3 separate regions of the Homo sapiens genome follow, and regions 1 and 2 are each linked to region 3. The links come from fine-mapping of genetic effects on gene expression. A gene starts in region 3. Each other region holds a variant in brackets. All regions are shown on one strand. Distances are between the middles of the regions.

What was found. PIP is the estimated chance that this variant, and not a neighbour inherited with it, causes the effect.
Region 1: its variant is fine-mapped to the expression of YWHAQ in whole blood (TOPMed, PIP above 0.99).
Region 2: its variant is fine-mapped to the expression of YWHAQ in whole blood (TOPMed, PIP 0.93).

What each region holds. Positions count from the first base shown.
Region 1 is chr2:9,557,552-9,565,731 of GRCh38, forward strand. It overlaps LOC101929643 (a long non-coding RNA gene), which reads left to right and starts at 7,531. Exons shown (of 3, transcript XR_922777.3): 1 at 7,531-8,159. The variant T/C (reference allele first, on the strand shown) is at 3,482.
Region 2 is chr2:9,734,966-9,743,145 of GRCh38, forward strand. It overlaps the pseudogene RNU4-73P. Among named protein-coding and RNA genes, the nearest start is that of TAF1B, 100 kb to the right of the region's middle. RefSeq lists an enhancer at 3,521-3,620. The variant C/T (reference allele first, on the strand shown) is at 4,241.
Region 3 is chr2:9,626,408-9,634,569 of GRCh38, forward strand. YWHAQ (tyrosine 3-monooxygenase/tryptophan 5-monooxygenase activation protein theta) reads right to left here and starts at 4,590. Exons shown (of 6, transcript NM_006826.4): 1 at 4,534-4,590; 2 at 3,752-4,127. The coding sequence starts at 4,045. RefSeq lists enhancers at 3,176-4,078, 3,822-3,921 and silencers at 4,042-4,391, 4,592-4,691, 4,742-4,911.

The DNA.
Region 1 (8,180 bases), 69 kb before region 3:
CACGCCCAGCTAATTTTTGTATTTTTAGTAGAGATGGCATTTCACCACGTTGGCCAGGCTGGTCTCAAACTCCTGACCTTAGGTGATCCACCCGCCTCGGCCTCCCAAAGTGCCAGGATTATAAGCGTGAGCCACCGCGCCTGGCCTGAATAACCAGAAGTCCTAGATTTCCAGGGACATTCCAAATTTCAAGTAATCTTTTCAATTCACAAATCAGGACCCAAATTATTCCAATTTGCAGTTCATCTTTCATTTATCAATTGTGCATACTTTTAAGATAAAAGAGCACCACGTGGGGGAGATAAAGAGCCAAAGGAATATGGTAAGAGGGGCACTGGATAGATTAATTAGTTTATCTTTTTTTTTTTTTTTTTTTTTTTTTGAGACGGAGTCTTGCTCTGTTGCCAGGCTGGAGTGCAGTGGCATGATCTTGGCTCACTGCAGCTTCTGCCTCCCAGGTTCAAGGGATTCTCCTGCCTCAGCCTCCCAAGTAGGTGGGACTACAGTTGTGCGCCACCATGCCCAGCTAATTTTTGTATTTTCAGTAGAGACAGGGTTTCACCATGTTGGCCAGACTGGTCTGGATCTCCTGACCTCGTGATCTGCCCGCCTTGGCCTCCAAAGTGCTGGGATTACAGGCATGAGCCACCGCGCCCGGCTCTTTTATCTTTTGAGACGGTCTGGCTCTGCAGCCAAGGATGGAGTACCGTGACACAATCACAGCTCACTGCAGTCTCGACCTCCTGGGCTCAAGCAATCCTCCAGCCTCACCCTCCTCAGTAGCTGGGACCACAGGCATGCACCACCACACCTGGCTAATCTTTACATTTTTTTTATAGAAGTGGAGTCTCGCTATGTTCCTCAGGCTGATCTCAAACTCCTGGCCTCCCAGAGTGCTGGGATTACAGGTATGAGCCACTGCACTCAGCACCAAAATAATTTTTTAAAACTATATACCCCCTGGCCAGACGTGGTGGCTCACACCTGTAATCCCAGCACTTTGGGAGGCCGAGGCAGGCGGATCACGAGGTCAGGAGATCAAGACCATCCTGGCTAACACGGTGAAACCCCGTCTCTACTAAAAATACAAAAAATTAGCCAGCGCAGTGGCACGTGCCTGTAGTCCAAGCTACTTGGGAGGCTGAGGCAGGAGAATCACTTGAACCCTGGAGGTGGGGGTTGCAATGAGCCGAGATAGCGCCACTGCACTCCAGCCTGGGCGACAGAGGGAGACTCCATCTCAAAAAAAAAAACAACTATATACCCCCTAGGTGTATCTTTAAAGTTTTTCATCATTAGCGTAGTAGTAGCAAATTATGAAACTTTCAGCATAAATACTGACATTTAAAATTAAAGCTGTTAGGTCATTATTTTAAAGTTTTCCAATAGAGTATAAATACCTCAAAGATTTGACAGCCACAGTGGTAGCCCAGCCTCCAAGATGGCCCCCAATGATGCCTGCTTCCTCTTCTACACTGGGCCATAGTTGGTCTGTGACCACTAGCATGCAGCCGAAGTGATGTCACTTCTGAGGTTAGGACACAAGAAACTCTGTCCTCCATCTCAGGTGCTCTCTTGCTTGCTTGTTTCCTCTTGAATCACACACTCTGGGGGAAGCCAGCTTTCATGTCATGAGAACACTCAGGAAAACTATGGAGAGGTCCAATAGAACAGGTCAGCAGCCAACAAACACCAAGGAGCTGCCAAAGACTATGTGAGTGAGCTTGGAAGGAATTCAGCCCCAGGCAAGCTTTAAGATCACTGCAGCCCCTGACCTACCATCTGACTATAACTAAGCTACTCCCAGATTCCTCAGCCTCAGAAGCTGGGAGATAAGTGTTCGTGGTTCTAAAGCTCCTAAATTAGGGGTAATTTGTTACACAGCCACTATCATCTGTTCAAAAAAATACGTAAACAAGTTGATGGGATCCTGGGTTCTTAACACCTGAAGTGATGCTTTTAATTTAGGATTTAATAAAGATAATTAAAAATATTTCCTGAGGTTCCCCAATCCCATGCTGTGGAATTAATTATTCATAATTTAGATACCGCAAGTGAATTTAAGAGTAAACATTTGCAGTTATTAAACACATGAGCCACATATGGTTCTGCAGTTAACTACCAAACCCACACAAGTACCAGTAAAACCTTGTCTAAATGACCAGAGAACTAACTGGTTCTGGCTGGGTGTTTTGTTTCCTTCTATCTATTTCTCTAGCTCTATTTCTCTTATTAGCCAATTTTGTCTTACACCAACCCCACCAGTTTTTATAGATGGATAGAGCCATCCTCACTGTTTCTAAAATGGTAATTATTCCTGCATTTGTATGCTTTTTTGCTGATGAACAAATCTGTGGAAAGCAGTCGCTTTAAGTATGAGTCAACCCACAAATAAGACAACAGATGCCACTTAATGAAAAATAGGACTTTATACAAAGTCATGTGCCAAGAACTCTAATTTCTAAGGTTTTGGTTAAGAAATTTTAACCCATTTTAGAAAAAATCAACCTTTTTTTTTTTTTTTTTTTTGAGACGGAGTCTTGCTCTGTCGCCAGGCTGGAGTGCAGTGGCGCGATCTCAGCTCACTGCAACCTCCGCCTCCCGGGTTCAAGTGATTCTCCTGCCTCAGCCTCCCGAGTAGCTGGGACTACAGGCATGCGCCACCACGCCCAGCTAATTTTTGTATTTTTAGTAGAGACGGGGTTTCACCATATTGTCCAGGATGGTTTCAATCTCTTGACCTCATGATCCGCCCACCTCGGCCTCCCAAAGTGCTGGGATTACAGGCATAAGCCACCGTGCCCGGGCAAAATCAACCTTTTAGAAAAATGACAAATATGCATGGGACAAAGCAGAGACATCTGCAGATCCTCACTGATGAACAGATGATTTTGGGGGGAATTTTTTTTAATTGTTATAAAGTCTCCTTTCTTTCTTTTTTTTTTTTAGAGACAGGGTTTCACCATGTTGCCCAGGTTGGTCTCGAATTCCTGGGCTCAAGCGATCCACCCACCTCGGCCTCCTAAGGTGCTAGGATTACAGGTGTGAGCCACCACATCCCACTGATATGAACCACCATTGTGTGCAGAAGTATCATACATCCTACATATTGTATGCCACATAAAATATGGAGCTGTGTCTGTTCTTTTCCTTCTTAAATCCCTGCCTCTCTCCCTTGAGATCTCGGGGTAATTGAACCACATGAATAACTGAACTTAGAGAGCAGACTAGATAAAGAGAACAAATGGAAACTTGTGCTGGTTTGAAATTACCTCAGGTCTGAAGTGGCCAGAAGTCATTACTCTTGGGTTGACAGGCCCCAGAGAGGAGACTCTCACCAATTACCCTCCAGTTCCACAGCAGCCAGAGACCTTAATTGAAAAGCTGTTCTACTTAGGGCTCTTCAGAAAAACCGAACTTGATTGTTCAATGTTTAAATTCTGAAAATTTTACTAATATTTTAAGAATTATACCAAAGAGA[T/C]ACACATTATACCTTTGGCCTCAAAGAAATTATACTCTAAAAGATAGATATATATAAACACACAAACACCCAAATGCATCAGGAAAAATAAGGATCATGGATTTTTTTCACGTTAACTTTTTGGGTTTGTGTTTTTTTTGAGATGGGGTCTCGGTCTGCCACCCAGGGTGGAATGCAGTAGCACAATCTCGGCTGACTACAACCCCTGTCTTCTGGGTTCAAGCGATTGCTTGTGCCTCAGCCTCCCGAGTAGCTGGGACTACAGGCGTGCACCACCATGCCCAACTAATTTTTATATTTGTATAACAGTGGAGATGGGGTTCCACCATGTTGCCCAGGCTGGTCTTGAATTCCTGGCCTCAGATGATCTGCCCACCTCAGCCTCCCAAAGTGCAGGGATTATAGGTGTGAGCTATCACGCCTGGCCCACATTAACTTTTTAAAATAAATTTTCATTTTAGAAAAATTTCAGATTTACCGAAAAGTTGCAAAGATAGTATGGAGTTCCTGTTTCACCCAGCTTCCTAAATGTTGACCATGATGATCATGGTATGTTTGTTAAACTAAAAAAATAATACTGGTACAATACTAGTAACTAAACTGCAGACATTTGGATTTTTTTTTTTTTTTTGAGACGGAGTCTTGCTCTGTCACCCAGGCTGTAGTGCAGTGGTGCGATCTTGGCTCACTGCAACCTCCTTCTCCCGGGTTCAAGTGATTCTCCTGCCTCAGCCTCCCAAATAGCTGGGACTGCAGGCTTGTGCCACCATGGCCGGCTAATTTTTGTATTTTCAGTAGAGATGGGGTTTCACCATATTGGCTAGACTGGTCTCAAACTCCTGACTTCAGATGATCTGCCTGCCTCTGCCTCCCAAGTGTTGGGATTACAGGTGTGAGCCACCACACTGGCCGGATTTTTTTATTTTTTAATGTGCCTTACGGTCTTTAAGAAATTTTGGGGCCAGGCACAGTGGCTTACTCCTATAATCCCAGCACATTGGCAGGCTAAGGAGGGATTGCTTGAGCCCAGGAGTTCAAGATCAGCCTGGGCAACAAATAAAAAAAATTAGCCAGGCATGGTGGCACATGCCTGTGGTCCCAGCTACTCAAGAGGCTGAGGCTGAGGCAGGAAGATCACTTGAGCCCAGGAAGTCAAGGCTGCAGTGAGCCATGTTTGTGCCACTGCACTCCAGCCTGGGCAACAGAGTGAAACCCTGTCTCAAAATAGATAATTAAATTAAATTTAAAATTATGATAAAATACACATAACACAAAATTTACCATCAACATTCAATACATTTACAGTGCTGTGCAATCATCACCACCATCTGATTCCAGAACATTTTAATCACCCCAAAAGGAAACCCCATACCCATTAAACCACCTTTCCCCCTCCTCCCAGTCCCTGGAAGCCACTAATTGGACTGCAATTTTGTCACTAATGTCCTTTTTCTGTTCTAGGATCTAACCCAGGATACTACATTGCATTTAGTCACATTACTGTTATACTCTTTAGGTCAAATAAAGCTATTTTAAATATTTCATTCTCGGCTGGGCACGGTGGCTCACGCCTGTAATCCTAGCACTTTGGGAGGCTGAGGCAGGTGGATCACCTGAGGTCAGGAGTTCAAGACCATCCTGGGCAACATGGTGAAACCCCGTCTCTACTAAAAATACAAAAATCAGCCAGGCGTGGCAGCATGTGCCTGTAATCCAAGCTACTTGGGAGGCTGAGGCAGGAGAATCACTTGAACCTGGAAGGCAGAGGTCGCAGTGAGCTGAGACACTGCTACTACACTTAAAAAAAAAAAAACAAAAACTCTGCAGAAGCAATAGTTAATATACTTAGTGGTGTTAAAGGAAACTGTCCAGCTCAATCCCTCACTCTCTCTCCTTTGAACTAGTCCCTATCATTCCCATAATACCTGAAGTGACTTTCTTACCTCTGCTTCCTCTCCACCAGTACCTCTACCTGTCTTCCATAACACCAGCTAAATGTCTCCTATCCATGGGCTTTTTCTTGGTTCTTTTATAGCCCGTCCTTCATTTTATCTTGCATTGTTGCTTCTTGATGGTATTTTGGTATTTTCTACCAAAGCACAAGTTCGTAAAGGTGAGGACCCTACTACCTTCCATATCAAATAAGTGTTCTGCCTAAGGCAGTTAACAGTTATTTATGAAACAAATATCATTATCTGACATACAGCCAGATACCTCACAATTTCCCTCATCTAAATAAATTAGACAATTTAATGCTTATAGCGGCAGAATTGTGTCTCCCCTGCCCAAGAAAATAAGTTCAAGTCCTAACCCCTGGTATTATGAATGTGATCTTATTTGGAAACAGGGTCTTTGCAGATGTAATCAAGTTAAGATGAGGTCATACTGGATTAGGCTGGGCCCTAAATCCAATGACTGATGTCCCTGTAAGAAGAGAAGTGACACAGAGACACACAGAGAGAGCACCGTGAGATGATGGATGCAGAGATTAGAGTTATACACCTACAAACTGAACACCAAAGAGCGCCACGACACCAGAAGCCAGGAAGAGGCAAGGAAAAGACTCTTCCCCTGGGCCTTCAGAGGGAGCATGGCCCTGCAGACACCCTGATTTTGGACTTCTGGCCTCTAGAACGGAGAGAATAAATTTCTCTTGGTTTTTATTTTATTTATTTTTATTTTTTATTTTTTGGTTTGTTTGTTTTGTTTTTTTGAGACAGGTTCTCTCGCTCTGTCACCCAGGCTGGAGTGCAGTGGCGCCATCTCGGCTCACTGCAGCCTCGATTTCCTGGGCTCCAGCAATACCCCCACCTCAGCCTCCTGAGTAGCAGGGACTACAGGCACATGCCAGCCACCACGCCTGGGTAGTTTTTTTAGTTTTGGTAGAGACAAGGTTTCCCATGTTGCCCAGGCTAGTCTCAAGCTCCTGAGCTTAAGCAATCTACCCCACTGCGGCCTCCCAAAGTGCTAGGATTACAGGTGGAGCCACCGCACCTGGCCATTTATCTTATTTTAAGCTATCCAGTTTGTGACAACTTATCACAGCAGCGCTAAGAAAATATTACAATGCTTATGGAACACAGCCTAAGGTTACCTCCCCTTCTGCCCTTCTGCCTTTTCTCCTGAAATTCCTCTTGCCTGGAATATCCTTGCTCTATGTATCCAGCTATGAAAAACCTAAGCATCCTTCACTGGCATCTGAACGTTCTACTCACTGGCATCTGAACATTCTGATTTGTAGATTGCAGGTCTGCACCATTTTTTAGTAGTCTTAGTCTTTTAAAGATCCCATTTATTTTGTCACAGTTCTGGAGGCCAGAGTCCAAAATCAAGCTGTCAATTATGCAAATATTTGGTCCTTCAAAGCCATTCTTACATAGGGTGATGGAGTCAGGTAACCAGCAGAGAGCAGGGAGACTGTAAAATTACATCTTTTTCTATTCCTGGCTACTTCTGAGTTCTGATAGTAAATCTCTTGTGATTTAATCATTATTCTTTTTTGTTTTTGAGACAGGGTCTAGCTCTGTCACCCAGGCTGGAGTGCAGTGGTGTGAACATGGCTCACTGCAGCCTCGACCTCCCGAGCTCAGTGATCCTCCCACCTCAGCCTCCTGAGTAGCTGTAACCACAGGCACGTGCTACCAGGCCCAGCTAATTTTTTTTTTTTTGAGATGGAGTCTCGCCCTGTTGCCCAGGCTGGAGTGCAGTGGCGTGATCTCAGCTCACTGCAGCCTCTGCCTCCCAGGTTCACCCCATTCTCCTGCCTCAGCCTCCTGAGTAGCTGGGATTACAGGCGCACCACCACATCCAGCTAATTTTTGTGTGTGTATATATATATATATTTTTTTTTAGTAGAGATGGGGTTTCACCATGTTGGCCAAGTTGGTCTCAAACTCCCGACCTCAGGTGATCCACCCACCTCAGCCTCCCAAAGTGCTGGGATTACAGGCGTGAGCCACTGCACCCAGCCAATTTTTTAATTTTTTTATAGAGATAGGGTCTTGCCTTGTTGCCCAGGTTGTTCTCAAACTCCTGGGCTCAAGCAATCCTCCCGCCTTGGCCTCCTAAAGTGCTGGGATCACAGGCATGAGCCACTGTGCCTGGCCTGATTTAATTCTTCTTCTTCACCTGATCCAGTTTTCTCCATGAAGACTTGAGACCAAGTCACAGTAGGTTTGGACCCAAATGTATGCTGCTCCTCTCTCCCCATGTTCTTTGCTTCTGTTCTTAGCCTGGGGTAAAGTCCTCCTTGTCCTGGGCCAGACATACTGTCAAGAGAAAGCTTGGTATTGGACTGACTCCATTTAAAGAACCTTATTTTATGAATCTGTCCCAGGAAAATATAGTAACTCGTTAACAGTTTTGAATGATTTGTTCTTTGCTTTTTGGCAAATTTCAGTTTATCCTTGCTAGAGGGAAAACAATAAAATCCACAAGTAATTCCCAATTTTCAACCTAGCCCAGCAATTTAACCTCCTCACTCACTTTGCCAAGGCTACTAATAAGTAGCTGTGTGCCTGGCCTGCTTTCCTTCTCTCCTCTCCCTGGTCCTGCCCATTGGCAGGGAGCCTCTTGTGAGTCATAAGATGACCAAGAGATCACACGGCGAGAGACTGAAAGAAAAGCAGCAAAGCCCTGGGTAATCAAGGCCCTAAACGGAAAGTGTCAGGATCTTGGGGTAAGTGGCTTTTATATCTTT
Region 2 (8,180 bases), 110 kb after region 3:
CTATCTATCTTCAGACTTAATGATTATACTCCAAGACCCCCTGTGTGATTCTTTTACAATCACACCCCCAGCAGCATTCTCAAAGGGCTTGTCTCCCATATTGTGTGTCTGGGGGAGCTCCATTCAATGTGTTGGCAGTTTCACTGAGCACCCACTATGTACCAGGTACTGTGCTGGGGACTAAAAGATGAAGAAAACATTATCCTTCCCTGAAGGTTCTCAGGATCTAGTGAGGACAGAGACAGGGAACCAACTAAGCCTCATATGGCAGATCAAATGATAGATGTCAGGTGTCATAATGGAGTTAGAGAGAGGTAAAGAAAGCCTGGGGAAGCCCAGACGAAACAGGAATGGACTTGGCATCAAAATAGGACTACAGAGGAGGAACTTGAAGAACAAGTAGGGTTTTCAGGTGTAAAGGAGGTGGGGAAAAGCATTGTAAGCTAAGGGAATAACACGATGAAGTGCAGAGACACAGAAGAGCTTAGCATGTTTGCCAAAGTGGGGAAGTGGTCTGATGGGGCTTTGTGGTTTGGGGCAGGGTGGTGCTGGAATGGAGAGGCCAAAACAAGCCAGATGGTAAAGAACCTCAAATGTTAGGCCAAGGGTTTATGACTCAGGCACAGGCAAGGGGGAGAGAAGAGAGGGGTGATGTGAGCAGGTTCATGTTTCCAGAAGCTCACTCTGCCTTGTTTAGGGGACCCATGTCCCTGTCCATTCCCTCTTCCTAGACCTCCCCTCCACCAAGGCGGTCTTTGTTTTCTGGGTGCTCTGGGAAGAAGTGTGGGATGGATTTGCTCTAATACTGAACAGTTCTCTGCAACTTCAGAAATACCTATCATCAAGCTTGAGGGGCAAAACTGCAGAAGTAGTTTAGGGGAAGAAGCCTGACCCCTAAATAGGGGATGTTGTATCATAATTTTATCCCACATGACTGTCATATTTCAAGGCCTGGGGCAAATGGCACCTCTTCCAAGAAACTACAATGTCACTATTATCTTTTCTGGAGAAACTTTCTTTAACTTCCTTATGCTCATCTAGCACGTCCCCTACTGACTCTGTTGGAACACCTGCTGGGCCTGCCCTTGTATGAATTTAGTTGGATTATATGGATCCATTAAGCAACTGCAGAGGTCCACCCATGCCAGGACCTGCACCAACTCTGAGGATGTAGAAATGAAAACATTGAGTCCTTGTCTTCAAGGAAGGAAGCTCACCCCAGAGATCACCTGGAGATCTTTATCTGCACAGTAAGACATTTGTTCCTGTGCAGCTCTGCCTCTCACCTTCCTGTAACTTGTCCCATCTAGCTCTGAAAGAGAATCAATTACTAACCATTGTCTGAGCATTGGGCCTAGTCATTTCCCCACTCCCCTCTCTGTTATGAAGAGGGCATTAAGCCTCAACCATCTGGTCCCTCTTCGAGTTCATGTTTTGTAAACACTCTTGCACATCTGTGCACATAATACCTTTGTTATGATTTTCTCTTGTTAACATGCTTTTTGTTGTAGGGGTGTTGGCTGTGACCCTTTATGATGGGGAGAAAGGGGATCACCCCTTTCTGTCCCTACCTTTTCAAGGTTTATGTACATTCTAGCATGTGTCAGAATTCCATGCCTTTTTATGGCTGAATGATATTCCATTATGTGAATATGCCACGTTTCGTGTATCCATTCATCTGTTGAAGGACATTTGGGTTGTTTTGCTATGGTCAATAATGCTGCTATGAACGTGAGTGTACAAGTACCTGTGTGGGTCCCTAATTTTCATTCTTTTGGGTAGATACTTGGGAGTGGAATTGCTGGGTCACATAGCAGTTACTGTGTTGAACTGTGTGAGGAGATTCCTCCCTCTCAGCAGCTCTTATGCTCACCTTCCTTTCTGTGTCTACTGCTGCCTTCTGCCTTCAGAAGCCCCCTCCTTCTTTCTGCACCTGGGCTAAGACAGCAGCTTCCTATTCGGTGTCTGTTTCCCACATCCACCTCTAGAGCTCATCCCAAAGAGTGATGGTGCTGTGGACCAAATTGTCTCCCAAATGCACGCATTGAAGATCCTACCCAGGACTGACTGTATTTGGAGATAGGGCCTTTATGGAGGTAACTAATGTTAATGGCGGTTATAAGTGTGACCTCAGTTACCTAATCCAATAGGACTGGTTTGGAAATAGATTTCTGTTGCCTAAGCTCCCAGCCTGTGGTGTTGTATTATGGCAGCCTGAGCAGATGAATGCAGATGGTGAGCAGCTCTTCCCCTGAGCCACACTGCCGAGGCTGCCCTGCTCAGAAACCTTTGGTGTTGCTGCCCTGTAAGACGGAATCCTAACGCTTCATCATTCGAGGCCGGCCCGTTCTCAGCCTTGCCTGCACTTCCGGGACTGTCTCTCCTTGCTCTTCCATCCCCAGGCTCTTCTTCAGCTGAGCCAGTGTATTGGCTCTTTCTGGAATAGGTTTTGTGCATTTGGCCTCTGTCCAAATGTCCCACAACTCCCCCTAGTGCCCTACTCACCCTAGTACCCCCCACTTCCTCTAGTACCCCCTACTCCCCCTAGTGCCCTACTCCCTCTAGTACTCCTCACTCCCCCAGTAACCCCTCACTTCCTCTAGTACCCCTGGCTCCCCCACTATCCCCCACTCCCCCTAGTACCCCCTACTCCCTCTAGTACCCCCACTCGTCCTAGTAACCCCCACTCCTTCTAGTGCCCCCTACTCCCCCAGTACCTCCCACTCCCCCAGTGCCCCCCACTCCTCCTAGTACCCCCATTCCCTCTAGTACCCCTGACTCCCCCTAGTACCTCCCACTCCCCCTAGTGCCCCCCACTTCCTCTGGTACTCCCCACTCCTCCTAGTGCCCCCCACTTCCACTCCCCCAGTCCCCACCAGGCACTTTGGAATGCCTTCTCCTGCTTTCTGCTTATTCCCCTCCTGCAGAAGCTCCCCTTGGGGATGGGGTGCAGGAGTCCAGTGATGTCCACTCGAGAAGCTCCTTGGGACATTTGCATTAGTACTATCTCTGTGCACATACAGTGGCGCACACAGTTGTTCAGCCCAGAAACTTGTGAACACACAGCTACTACTGACCAAGCACCTATTCCATGAGGACTTTAAGAGGATACTTTGAGATATAAATAACAGAAAAAGTCAAAATGGCTTGCAATAGTCATAGCTGACACTTACATGACACTTACCATGTGCCAGACGCGATTTGAATACTTTCTACACATTAACCCCTTAAATCCTCACAATGATCTCATAAACCAGATACGGTTATTATCACCATCCCCATTTCACAGATGAGGAAACTGAGAAGAGAGAGAAAATAAACAAGCCAAAAGTCCTCAGTAGTAGTGGTGGTGGATTGGGCAGTCAAGCTCTAGAGCCTTTGCCCCTGACCCCCACTGTCCCGTGTCTCTGACCTTGGGACAGCATTCTCTCACTTAATGAGATGTCTCAAGTTGGGGACATCCCAAGGGAAATTAATTCAACCGCTCAAGGCTGTCACCAAGGACTTGGCTTCTTTTCATCTCGACACTCTGCCATCGTTAGCCTCTTGGCTTTTATGTTGGGTATTATCCCTTTATGTCACAATATGGCTGCAGCAGTTCTAAGTATCATGTTCTCACCCAACCACACCCAAAGGTCAGAAAGAGAGAAAGCCCCTTCTTTATAGCTCTTTTTTTAAGAGTAAGGGAAACTTTCCCCAAATTCATCCAGACACTTCCTCTCGTGTCTTGTTAGTCAGAATGAAGTTACACGCCCGTTCATAAACTAATCACTGGGTCACCGTGACTGGCTTAGACCAATCAAGACACTGTGCTAGGCTCCCAGGGAGTCCTGCTTCTCCTGAAGCATGTGGCTGCCAGAAACCCTGAATAAAACAGGCCTCTGGCTTGCTGGTGAGGGAGAGGAACTGGAAGGGTTGCGGGCCTGTCACACAGCATCGCTATTTCTGGCTCCCACATCAGCCTTGTGAGATCAGGACTTTTATCGTTTTATGAATAAGGAAACCAAGACTCAGAGACAATGAGGTGCTTGGCCAAGGTCAGCGGCTGGTGAGTGACAGAGTCTGCATGCTCAGCCCATCCCTAGGAGTCTGGCAAGGCTGGAAATTGGTCTTTCTTTTCCCATCCTAGATGGATTGCGTTGGAAAGATTCAGGCTCCTGTCAGCTGGCTCTTGCTGTCCCTTCCTGACAGCTGCGACTCTGAGAACAGTTTAATTTCAGAAACCCTCACACGGTGGCTC[C/T]TCTCCCTGCCAGGCATCAGGAGGCCCCAGAGGAGCAGCAGAGGCAAGACTCGCTGTCCAGACTCCCTTCTGAGGAGACTGCGGTCAGGGAGCCCAGGCTGACCCTCGTGTTCTCATGCCTCGGTCCTGTTGATAAGAGGGAAGTCTGTGCTGGGTTCCTATCCACAAAGCCCTTGCGGGGAATGGGTCCCACACGCCGCTTCTGCAGACCCAGCTCATCCTGTTTCCGGTTTCTATTTTGTTTTTTCTTTTTTTTTTTTTTGATACGGAGTCTCGCTCTGTCGTGATCCGCCCGCCTCGGCCTCCCAAAGTGCTGGGATTACAGGCGTGCGCTACCGCGCCCGGCCCTGTTTCTGGTTTCCAATTCTCTTAGGATGTCAGTGCCTTTGATCCTCTGAGCCCCCGGAAGGGCTCAGCCCTCTCACATCTGCCTTCCTCCTAGAGGTGTGACGCCTGCCCTTCCGCCAGGGCGAGGCAGGGGAGTGACTTGGCGCCCGAGTCCCGTTTCCCGTCCCCTCTCCGTTGCCTGTGCTCAGAGCCAGGGACTCTGCTATTTGTAGGCCCCGCGGGCTCTGTCTGGGGTCTTTCCCCAGGGGAGGGTGTGCGTCCGGGAAGGAGAGGCAGCCTGGAGTTCCTTCTGGATACCGGCCAGGCCTGCGCTATTTGCCTGGAGAGGCCATCGGCATCACTGAGAAGGTCCCTGGAACTCGCTGCTCAGACACATATGTGGCAGCCAGTCAGGAGCTACGTTCTTCTTTGCTGGAAACAAGCAAGGATAGACTGTGATTTTCCTCTCCCTCTGTTGTGTATTTTTCACTCCTGTCTCTCCATCAACCCACCCACCCATCCATCCATTCATCCACTCATCCATCCACCCACCCACCCACCCATCCATCCATCCATCCATCCATCTACCCATCCACCCACCCATCCATCCACCCACCCATCCATCCATCCTACCATCCATCCACTCATCCATCCACCCACCCACCCACCCATCCATCCACCCACCCATCCATCCATCCATCTACCCACCCACCCACCCATCCATTCACCCACCCATCCACCCATCCATCCACCCATCCATCCACCCATCCACCCACCCATCCACCCATCTATTCACCCATCCACCCACCCACCCACCCACCCACCCACCCATCCACCCATCTATCCATCCACCCACCTGTCACATAGTGTGGCAAATACAACAACGACTCACATGTGGTTCCTGCCCCTACACCCTCAACACTCATACCCTAGTGGGGACTCCTCCAACCAACGAATGCAGAAGGTTTTAGCTCCCTGATGGGCATTTGTATTTGAAGTTGGGGGGTGGGGGGCTGCACAAATGTGCACAACTTAATAGAGGTCCTTCTGGCATTGTGCCAAAGTGAAGCTGAGGAGGAGTTAAATTTTTATGTTTTTTTGGTTGTTCAGCCTCTGTAGAGAGTCTCAAAAATTCTCGATGCCAATTATATTTCAAGTTGTCATGACAAGCTATAGGGAAAAGTTTTCAATTAGCAATAATCATGTCTCAGGCAAACCTCATTGGCTATGGTACCGCCACTGCAGAAATCTGAGGAGTTATTTTTAAGCAAGGGCTCTGCCTTCCCAGCGTGTCTTAAATTTCTCCAGGGTGAGTCAGATCACCCCTGTTCTTGGGGACCTCTTACACCAGCTACTGGTCGCCAGGTCTAGGGGAGGTTAGTGACCTCAGCCCTGGAAGGGGAGCCTCAAAGTCACTGGTGAGCCTCAAAAGAGGCTGGCAGGGCTGCCTGCCCAGACCCATTTGCTACAGTTATAATGGGGAGTGTCCTTGGGTAATGAACTGCTATGTAGAGCTCCTGATTAAGCACTAATTAATTATTAATGCACTGTGTCATAATTTTGCCTGGCCCTTTCTATGCCAAAGAATTGTATCCCACAATTCCATTTGTGATCCTGCATTTTCTGATTTGTGGCCATGGTGGCCCCTTTTCAAGCTCACCTGTCTCTGCAGTGGCCAGATGGATCACTGAGGGTACATGCACCACGAGGTCATTGTCCACTGGTAGTAGGTGGCATGGATGACGACTCATGGGTGTAACGTGTGAACAACAACAGATACACCGGCTGGAGTCAGCCACACTTGGAATTCTGGCTGTAATGCTACTGTGGTTTGGATATTTGTCTCCCGAAACCTCATGTTGAAATTTGATCCCCGATACTGGAGGTGGGGGCCTATGGGAGGTGTTTGGGTCATGGGGACAAATCCCTCATGAAGGTCTTGGTACTGTCCTTGTCCTTGTTATAATGAGTAGGTTCTTGGTCTATTAGTTCCCTCAAAGGCTGGTTGTTTAAAGAGCCTGGAACCTCCTCCTCCTCTCTCTGGCTTTCCCTCTCCCCATGTGATTCTTACACATACCGGCTTCCCTTTGCCTTCTGCCATGAGTGGAAGCAGCCTGAAGCCCTCACCAGAGGCAGATGCTGGCACCATGCTTGTTGTACAGTCTGCAGAACCATGAGCCAAAGAAACCTCTTTTCTTTATAAGTTACCCAGGCTCAGGTATATCCTTTATGGCAATGCAAATGGACTAAGGCAAATGTACTCACCTTGGTGTTACCTCAATCATGTTACTTAACCCTTTGAGCCCTTCTCATCCATACAGGAAGGAGAAGAGTAGCACCTGCCTCACGTGTTTAACCAGAAAGAGGACCTCAGGCTCCAGTGATGGATCGGGACATGTCTTGTCCTGAGGTTTCCTTTGCTGTACTTCACTTGGGGCCATCTCAGGAACCAGTGTAAGGTCACTGGAGATGCCACTTGGAGGAGGCACTCAGCTGTGCCTCTGGCCTGCACCTGTGCTTGGTTTATGGGTGGGGTCAGTTGTTGGGACTATTTTAGTTACAGGTTCCAGAAATCCATCTTCAAACTGCAAAGGGGAATTCTTGTAAGGATTTGGGGGTGTCTCCCAGAATCTGAGGGTAAGAACTGAGCTGGCTTTCAGGAGCAATGGGAACTCATGGTTCGGCTCCACCTGAGTCTCATCCTGGCTTCTCTTTGTGAATCTGCATTTTTCTTTTCCTGGAGATGAGATTTTCCTCCTTCTCTGTCCATGTGGCATGACATGTAGTCACCACTGCTCCCAAAATTTAGCTTCTCGTAATCCCAACGCTTTGGGAGGCTGAGGCAGGTGGATCACCTGACTTCAGGAGTTCAAGAGCAGCCTGGCCAACATGGTGAAACGCTGTCTCTACTAAAAATACAAAAAATTAGCCGGGCATGGTGGCAGGCGCCTGTAGTCCCAGCTACTCGGGAGGCTGAGGCAGGGGAATCACTTGAACCCAGGAAGTGGAGGTTGCAGTGAGCCGAGATCTCACCACTGCACTCCAGCCTGGGTGACAAGAGCGAAACTCTGTCTCAAAAAAAAAAAAAAAAAAATGCAGCTTCTCCATTCAAGTTATTAGTTAAGACTGAACTGACATGTCTTGGTCCTAAGTTCCAGATGTCCAGCTGGGGCCAGGGGTCTGCAGCCACACGTGGGGTCTGAGAGAGCTGGCAGCTTTGCTGGCAACATGTGAACAGTGAGAAAGCCAGGACAGCAGTCCTCAATGAGGCCAAGTGGTGCTGGGACGAGCGGGGTCCCAGGAAGAGGGGCTGTGGAAACTGCTCTACCGCCCCTGCCTGGGGCTGCTCACTGAGAGGACACACTTTCTTGAGTGTCACCATTCCTCCATGATGGCTTCCAAGAGGCTGAGTGAGCATGCGCTTAGGGCACCAGCAAGGCCAGCAACAACAGTGAAAACATTTTTTTTCCTGACAAAAATTGTTTGGGTTTTTTTGAGACGGAGTTCTGTCACCCAGACTGGAGTTCATTTGCTAGATCCCGGCTCACTGCATCCTCCGCCTCCTGGGTTCAAGGGATTGTCCTGTCTCAGCCTCCCGAGTAGCTGGGACTAC
Region 3 (8,162 bases):
CATCTTACCTGTAATATTTAAGCCCAGGGTTTTGTTTTTGTTTTCAGAGTCTCGCTCTGTGGCCCAGGCTGGAGTGCAGTGGCACATCTCGGCTCACTGCAACCTTCGCCTCCCAGATTCAGGTGATTCTCCTGCCTCGGCCTCCCGAGTAGCTGGAACTACAGGCATGTGCCACCACGCCTGGCTAATTTTTTTGTATTTTTAGTAGAGACGGGGTTTCACCATGTTGGCCAGGCTAGTCTCCAACTCCTGACCTCAGGTGATCCACCAGCCTTGGCCTCCCAATGTGCTGGGATTACAGGCATGAGCCACCACATCCAGCCAAAGCCCAGTTTTTTTGTGTCTAAATTTTGCTCTTGCCAACACTCAGTAAGATCACCAATGACTTCTGCCTCACTTCTTTCTGAAGCCATTTCCCTAAAGTCACCAGTTTTCAACCTGTCATGTATTCTTCAATCTGGACTTTAAAAACTACTCATTTAAGAGGTGGAAGGATGTCAGAGCAGAGCAGAATGGCTAGGACCTGCATTACTCTACAGCCCCAAACCATGAGAACTCGAAGAGACTTAGAAAGTTAAGCCCAAAGTCTTCGGTTTTACAATGACACTGAGAGACAGCTCTAACTGGATGAAATCTTAACTCCCCTCATCTTAGAGAGTTTGGTTCACTTATAGTTCTTTACTCTTGGATTTTAACATTTTTTTGTGCTTCCACGGTTCAGTAACCTCTTTCAATACCGTGATTATCAAAAGGGTTGAGAGTTGTTCACACAGTTATTTTGAATACATGGTTTAAGTAATTCTGCCCCAACCTACTCTATGAAAGGGAGGAGGCTGAGAATATCTGCTCTTTTCTACCAAAAATTTAGCTATCCTTCATGTTACTTTAACTAGTCTTCTATAATTACCAAGTTAGTCTCACCTCCTCCACACCAAATCTTTCTTCCTGTTCACCAAAGGAAAAAAAGAAAACCCTATGTTAGCACGCATGTTCAAAAACTTTAGGTGTTACTCTACTTTCCTAGACTCCTTATTAAATTACTAACTCATCAATTATCACTTGTCTTATAACTTCCTTATCTGTCAGTTCAGATCACAGACTGGTTAGTCAGCCCTCAAACCACGAATTCTAGATGCTGCTACATGTACAGTGGTGCTGACATCTGTAATCCCAGGACTCTGGGAGGCCAAGTCATGAGGACTGCTTGAGGCCAGAAGTTCAAGACCAGCCTGGGTGTAACAAGATCCCATCTCTACAATAAATAAATAAAACTTTAAAAAAACCAGTTTCCCATGAACCAAATGAAGAAACCCCCCTTACTCCAATCTTCTATAAATGATGATGGCTGCCTTCCTTTCCAGGCTTGTCTCCTGCAGCAACTCTGCACATGAACTCTGCTCCAGCCACACCGACACACTGTTCCCCGAACAAGCCCTACCCCGGATATTCCTTTAATACTGACACCTCCGCCAGCCTCTTCCCTCAACGTTCACCCCAAAAAAACGGTATCTTTGTGAAGCCTTTTCAAAGGTTTCTATTTCCTTCAGACTACATAGCATTGTGTTCATTAACCATCTGATGGGAATATTGTGGTATTTATGTTTGTGTATCTCTCACATGCTCTCTAAATTATAAATCATCAGAGGGCAAAATCCACGGTTCTGTTTTGTTCCTCCCCATATTGCTCAGAGCACAGTGCCTGGCACACAGAAAGCTCTCAATACAGTTGCCAACTTGAAGAAGTGCTTTCCCAAGATATTTTTTATAGGTTGGCCACCAAGCCCCAGTTAGCCTCTTAAGCCATTTTATGAATATTTCATTTATGCCTTGGTGTCTCGGATTCATCAAACTAAACTATTCTATGTCTTCTCAGTATATAAAAGAGACTGTCCTAAATTCAGGGGTTGTCCCCATTGAAATGGTCTGTATGAAAGTTCTATTCTAATAACACCTGGTCTCTCTCTCAAGCTACGTATCAACTAAGCAAAACTCTTCCCCGACTTACGCCATCATAAAAAGCAGAATTTATAAGAGCCACAAAATAAAACGAATATTCCTTTGGCTCAGAGTCACCTTGCTCGAGAACAAGAAAAATCACGCGGTGATTCTGAATTGCTTCAAGGTAACTAATTGAAAAGCAATAAACTGAACAGAAATGAAATATGCTGTAAGAGTATCCAAAATACATACATAGAAAACCTTAACATATGGAATTCTTATGAGTCTTCCCTTGGTAACAGATAATGCTGTTAACAGCCATTACCATATGTTACTCAAGTTGAAGTCTACCACTACTTTCAAGTTGGCAAAATTTTTTAATACGAGCAATTCAGTCCAAAAAGCTTTTACAAGTGCTTCTTCAATGCCAAGCAGGGACTGGAAGCTAAGAGCACACGGAAGAATACAACGAAGTTTTGACTTCATAAAGTAAATAATCTTAAGTTTTCTCCACTTTAGTACACACTGTCTGCATTACTTTCTTTGCCTCTTTACCAGTTATTTCCATCAGCCATGATTTTGTCCGGATCGCCTGTCATCGTATTAGAAAAATAGATAGGTTAAAAAAGTTTCGTGGATTTTTTTTTTTTAAACAAGGGGTGGGGAACATATTCCCTGCCCCACCATTCTGATGAGATGAAGAAAGGCGGCTTGGGGGGTGGGGGTGGGGGAGGAGGCCAGGGAGAAATTATTTCTTCCATTCCCTTTTGAAAAATCCCCAGTCTAGTATGCTTGTCTATCAAAGCCCACCTAAAATATGATGTGCACAAACACATCAAAAATAAGTAGGCCTCTTGTAAAAGTGACACTTAAAAGGCAAACCATATGAGATTATTTCCCATTTTATTCATAGAAATGACTCTTGGCAGCACTGAAACATTTAAAAACACTCCTGGATATAATGCTGGTATTTCAGTTTTAAAAACTTATCCTACGGATCAAAAGATCCATGGAATGACAAAGCTAAAAATGTTCTCTCTCACTAATAAGGGTGAATCACAGCAGCCACCTACTCCACCCAACAATCGTCCTTGCTAAGACTGGACAGTTCAAAACCTGGAAAGCTTTCCTTGTCTGCTCCACACTGGAAACGAATTCACTTCAACACTAGTGTTTAAGCACAGGTGTGCAACAGCAAGGAAATGTTATTAAATGTTGAAATTTACCAGGACATTGTGTTCTTCAGATACAGCTGTGTCCTTTTCACATTTCCCGAACTCCCCTCCTCTCCTGTTTATGGGGGGTGGGGGGGAGCACAACAGATACTCTTACTTGAAAAATAAAGTATCTGTTCAGATTTTCTAAGTAAATTTCCATTACTGGGTTTGGGAAAAAATCCCTACTACATTGTCTGTAACAAAAAGGTGCCTGCGCCTTCTTTCAACTGCCTGAAGCTTGTGAACCGACTGAATACATTTAAAGGGCTCACAGATCTCAGGACGCAGTCTCCCCGCACAAGAAACTTAAAAACGCCTTTCAGTCTCGCAGAGACCTACTTGGATGTTTCCAAGTTCCATCGTTTGGTAGCTACCCAGCATCTGGGGCGAAAAAAAAGGACTTATCCTTGGAAAAGCGGCTTCTTGAGTCTCAACAACCGGAGGGACACAGTAGGGAAGTCAGGGCTCACCTAAAACCCTCCACCCCAGCAGACAGTCCGGCAAGCCCCGGCTCACGTTTGTTTCCGTGCCCGCGAAACTCTCAATGAAAAGCATCTCACAAAAGGCCTCCCCTGCTCCCCGCGCCGAGGACTCACCAGCACCGTGGTGCAGATGGATCTCAGCTCGGACTCCACTTTCTCCCGATAGTCCTTAATCAGCTGCAACTTCTTGTCGGAGGTGTCGGTCTTCTGCTCGATGCTAGAGATGACCCTCCAGGCGGACCTGCGGCCCCCGACCACGTTCTTGTAGGCCACGGAGAGCAGGTTGCGCTCCTCGTTGGACAGCTCGGCGCCCTGCTCGGTCACTGCCTTCATGCAGGTGGCCATGTCGTCGTAGCGCTCGGCCTGCTCGGCCAGCTTGGCCTTCTGGATCAGCTCAGTCTTCTCCATGGCGGGCGCGGGGCCGGGGCCGGGGCGGAGGGCGAGGAGAGCGAGGGCGAGCGCCGACCCGCAGCGGGAGGAGCCTCGAGAGCTGCGGAGGGGCGGGGCGGCGAGGCGAGAACAAAAAGCAGAGAGGGAGCGCCGTCAGACAATGCGGCCCGCCGCCCGCTTTTGTCTCCCGCACACGCGGCCGCTTGAATTTCCCTCTCCCCCGCCCCCTCCCCCGCTGGGCACCCGGGGAGGCCGCGGCCCGCGGCTGGAGGAGGCGGGGGCGGCGCGGAGGCCCCGCGCGCAGGGAGCCCGAGCCGCGGCCGCTCCCGCCACCCCCGCCCGGCCGGCCCAAGATGGAAGCGACCGTTGGCCCCGCACCTTCCCGCCCGGAGCCGTCCCTGAGGGGAGCGGCATCGACAACCGGCTGCTCTCAAGGGCGGCACCTCCGCCCGGCCCTCAATCCGAGCGCGGCCGGAGGAAGCCCGCGGGCCGACCCAGGCGCTCACCTTCACGTCTCCGCGGCCGCGACGCGAGTCCCACCACTTTGATCTGCTTTTGGCTTTAGCTGAGGACCCTCCCGTGTCAGCCTACCCCGGGGCCGAGGGGCGGTCCACCGCCCAATGATGCGCCGAGCTTCTCCCGAGAGTCCCGCCCCCAGCGCGCCGCTGGCCAATGAGGACCGAGCGCGCGGAAGGGGGCGAGGGGGGCGGAGCGGGAGGGAACGCGGAGGCTAGGAGGGTGGGTCGGTACGGGGAAGTTCGGTTGGCCGGCAGGCTGCGGCTTCGGCCACGGGGTTTCCTCCAATTAGATCCAGGGTAAAAGGACGTCACTGTTGCCATGGCGATGCCGTTACCAACTCCCCTCAGCCTCCCCGCCACCCCGGCACTTCTGGGTGCGGCACGAGACCCAGAGGCGCGCACGACCTCCTAGGCGGCGGCTGCGTCTCCCGCTGCGGATGGTGCATTGCATCTCACGGGCTCTGGCCGAGGCTGGACTTCGGAGGGTGACATATTCAGCTGTTTTAGAGCACGGGGGCCTTTCTTTCCTCCACCTTTCTATCCGTGACAAAGGTTTGGATCCCAAGACACTAAACCCAGACCTTAATGACGTTGCCATTAGGGCTCCGAATTAAGCAAACCGCATCCCCATTAAAGAAGAATTGATTCTGGAGACGGTGTCTTCAGTATGGCATTTACATGATAAATTCAAGTTTTCAGATGGGCATCCTAAAACAAAAAATTCCCTTGTGAAAAGGTAGGTCCCAGAAGATCCAGGGGAGTTTCTGTGACAATGCCAAGTATTGTGGTTTTCTTTAAAATGAGAAATGACATTAAGCACAATTTGCAGGAAAACACCTATTACTACCCCTTCCCACCCCCGCAAAAAAAAACCCTGCCCATAACATCTCTCCCCGCAAAAAAAAAGCAATTTTTATGTATCTTTTAGGCTTTCCAGGTTATGCACCTAAATACATCATTTTTCACATCGTTGTCACATGTGCACACGCTTTTGTTTCTGGTATTATTTGTGAGAGGTCACTTGAAAAGCTGAAATCCTCTCCCTGGATGTTGATTTCTGATTTTCTCCTCCTGGGGAACACCCTGCTGAAGCGAGAAAGATTCCCCCAGGCCCCTCCCATTCAGGGTCATCCCTGGCAGCTCCCTTTCCTCTTAAACCACTCCTGTCTCTCCTTGCACTTCCCCAGTTCCCTAACTCCATCCAGGTAGGGTGGCTGCCCTGCCCGTCTGGCGCGTGGTCCCTGTGCCATCTTAAGATGAGAATTGCCCTCTGGGTTCACGCTGCTATGATCCCGATTCCAGCAGGTCTAAGGAGAATGGATCATAAAGAATTTCCCATTCTGAGTGGAGACTGGAGCAAATCCGGAGAATCTCTAGAATGGGAGATTTGAGAGTGCAGACAGATGGGAGGAGAAGGTGCCGACTTTCCAGAAATTCAGACTCCCTCTTGACTGCCCCTCCCTGTCCTGACTTGTGAAGGTTGCTTTGTGCTTTGACAGACAGGAGCGGCCTGGATTGGAAAGGGCCTGTGTCTTAATGCAGAAATGCCTTACTATGTTCCAGCCTTCTAATGGAGGGCCCTGCTGTTATTTCTGGAATCCCTGGGGCCCCGCTACAGACACATGAGTGTTTATGGCCCTGTGGGCTGGGGTGGAGCTGGACACCGAGAAATCCCAATGGAAAGAATTTGCATGTGGAAGGTCAGATAAAATGCCTTCTGTATGACCAGTGAATTTCAAGCTCACCAAAATTAGAGGCAACCCGGGCAAGGGGAGAAGCCAGTGGAGGTGGATGGGGGATAGAGACCCAGGAGAGGAAATTGTCAGGGGATGGAACCTCTGTGGTAGAGAGGGACTACCAGAAGGAGCAAGCACACTAAATTCTTTGTCAGAAAGTCTAGGCTGTGCTGTGGTCTCCCCCAGTGACCTTGGGCAAGTTTTTGCTGCTTTCTGTACCTTAGTCTCTGAAATTTCTGCTTTCATTCAATCAAATATTTATTGAACACCAACTCATCTAGTTGCAATCATCTGGAATCATGGGTAAAAACTGCTTCCAACCAATAACACAGTATAAAATTGCATTTTAGGAAGATTCAGAGGACCCTCTACATAGCTAAAGGCTTCTGTGCCTGAAAGAACTCGGGTTGGAGAGAAACAAGGCTCTGGGAACTTGAAGTCCCTGGACACAGAAAGAGCTAACCTGTGTTGAGTGATTGCATATGTCAAGCACTATTTTAAGTCTTTTGCAAGAATTAACTTATCCAATCTGCTTAATGCAACTACAAAGTAGGTGTTATTATACTCACTATCTCTATTTCACAGACAAGGAAATTAAGGCACAGGGTGGTCAAGCATGACGTACAGGGCCACACAGCTAGAGAGCGGCAGAACCTTGGATATGGACCCCATGCAGTTTGGGTGCCAAAGCCCATCTTTTTAACCACTGCTGAGGCTGCCTCACCAAGTCTCCCCAGATCTCTGCTAGATGCTGTAGAGATCCTAGGATGGATCAGACCAGCCTCTGTCTTCTAGGAGCTTCACCCTAATAAATGTGAAACCTGTTAAGCATCACATCCAACATACTGGGAAGAAGTGCAAGGAACAGACAGCTAGCAAAGGGAGTACTGAGAAATTATTACTTTATTTATGAAGTTCTTATTATTTTTTCTAAGTTACCTGGTATGAAGAAGCTCCTGGAACAAAAAGGAGCACATTAACATGGAGCCAGAAGACCCTAAATTCAGCCCTGCTATTTATATGTGATTTGACCTTGGATACCTTGATCTTCTCTGAAACTCAATTCTCTCTACCTGTAATCTATAAAAATAATCCCAGCTGGGCACAGTGGCTCATGTCTGTAATCCCAACACTTTGGGAGGTCGGGGTGGGTGGATTGCTTGAGCCCAAGAGTTCCAGACCAGTGTAGGCAACATGTCAAAAACCTGTCTCTACAAAAAACATAAAAATTAGCTGGGTGTGATGGCGTATGCGTGTAGTCCCAGCTACCCGGGAGGCTGAACATGGGAGGATCGCCTGAGGCCAGAAGGTCGAGGCTGGCATGAGCCATGATTGCACCACTGCACTCCAGCCTAGGCAACAGAGTGAGACCCTGTCTCAAAAATCATCATCATCATCGCTACATCAAAGAGTTGTTTGGAGATTAGATGAGCTGTCACATAGGGAAATGCTGAGCATATAGCAAGTGTTCCATAAGTAGTGTTTTCTTCTTTCCTTCTTTCCCTCTGCTTGGAGGTGGGGTACGGCGCTGGCAGGATGCTATCCTGCTGCAAGGAGCCTTAGAACTTTATTAAATGTTTAGTGAAAGCTTATCTCTTGAATCATTGTTGTAATTAGTGCAGTTAATGGTCTACAGAATGGCTACATTCCATGTACATTTCAGAATGAATGAGTCCTTCAGGTTAAGCTCACTCTCATAAATCGTTTCAGTGATTTATTTGCTCAGACCAGTGGATCACCAGAAACTTCTTCCTTTCCTGCCATATGGCAGCTAGTTTAGTGACAAGCAAACATCTGAGTGGGACTTTTCACCCAAACTCTTCATATAATTATTATTGGTGCTTCTGTGCAGTGGGCAGAGAAAGTTGCCCCCCAACTCTG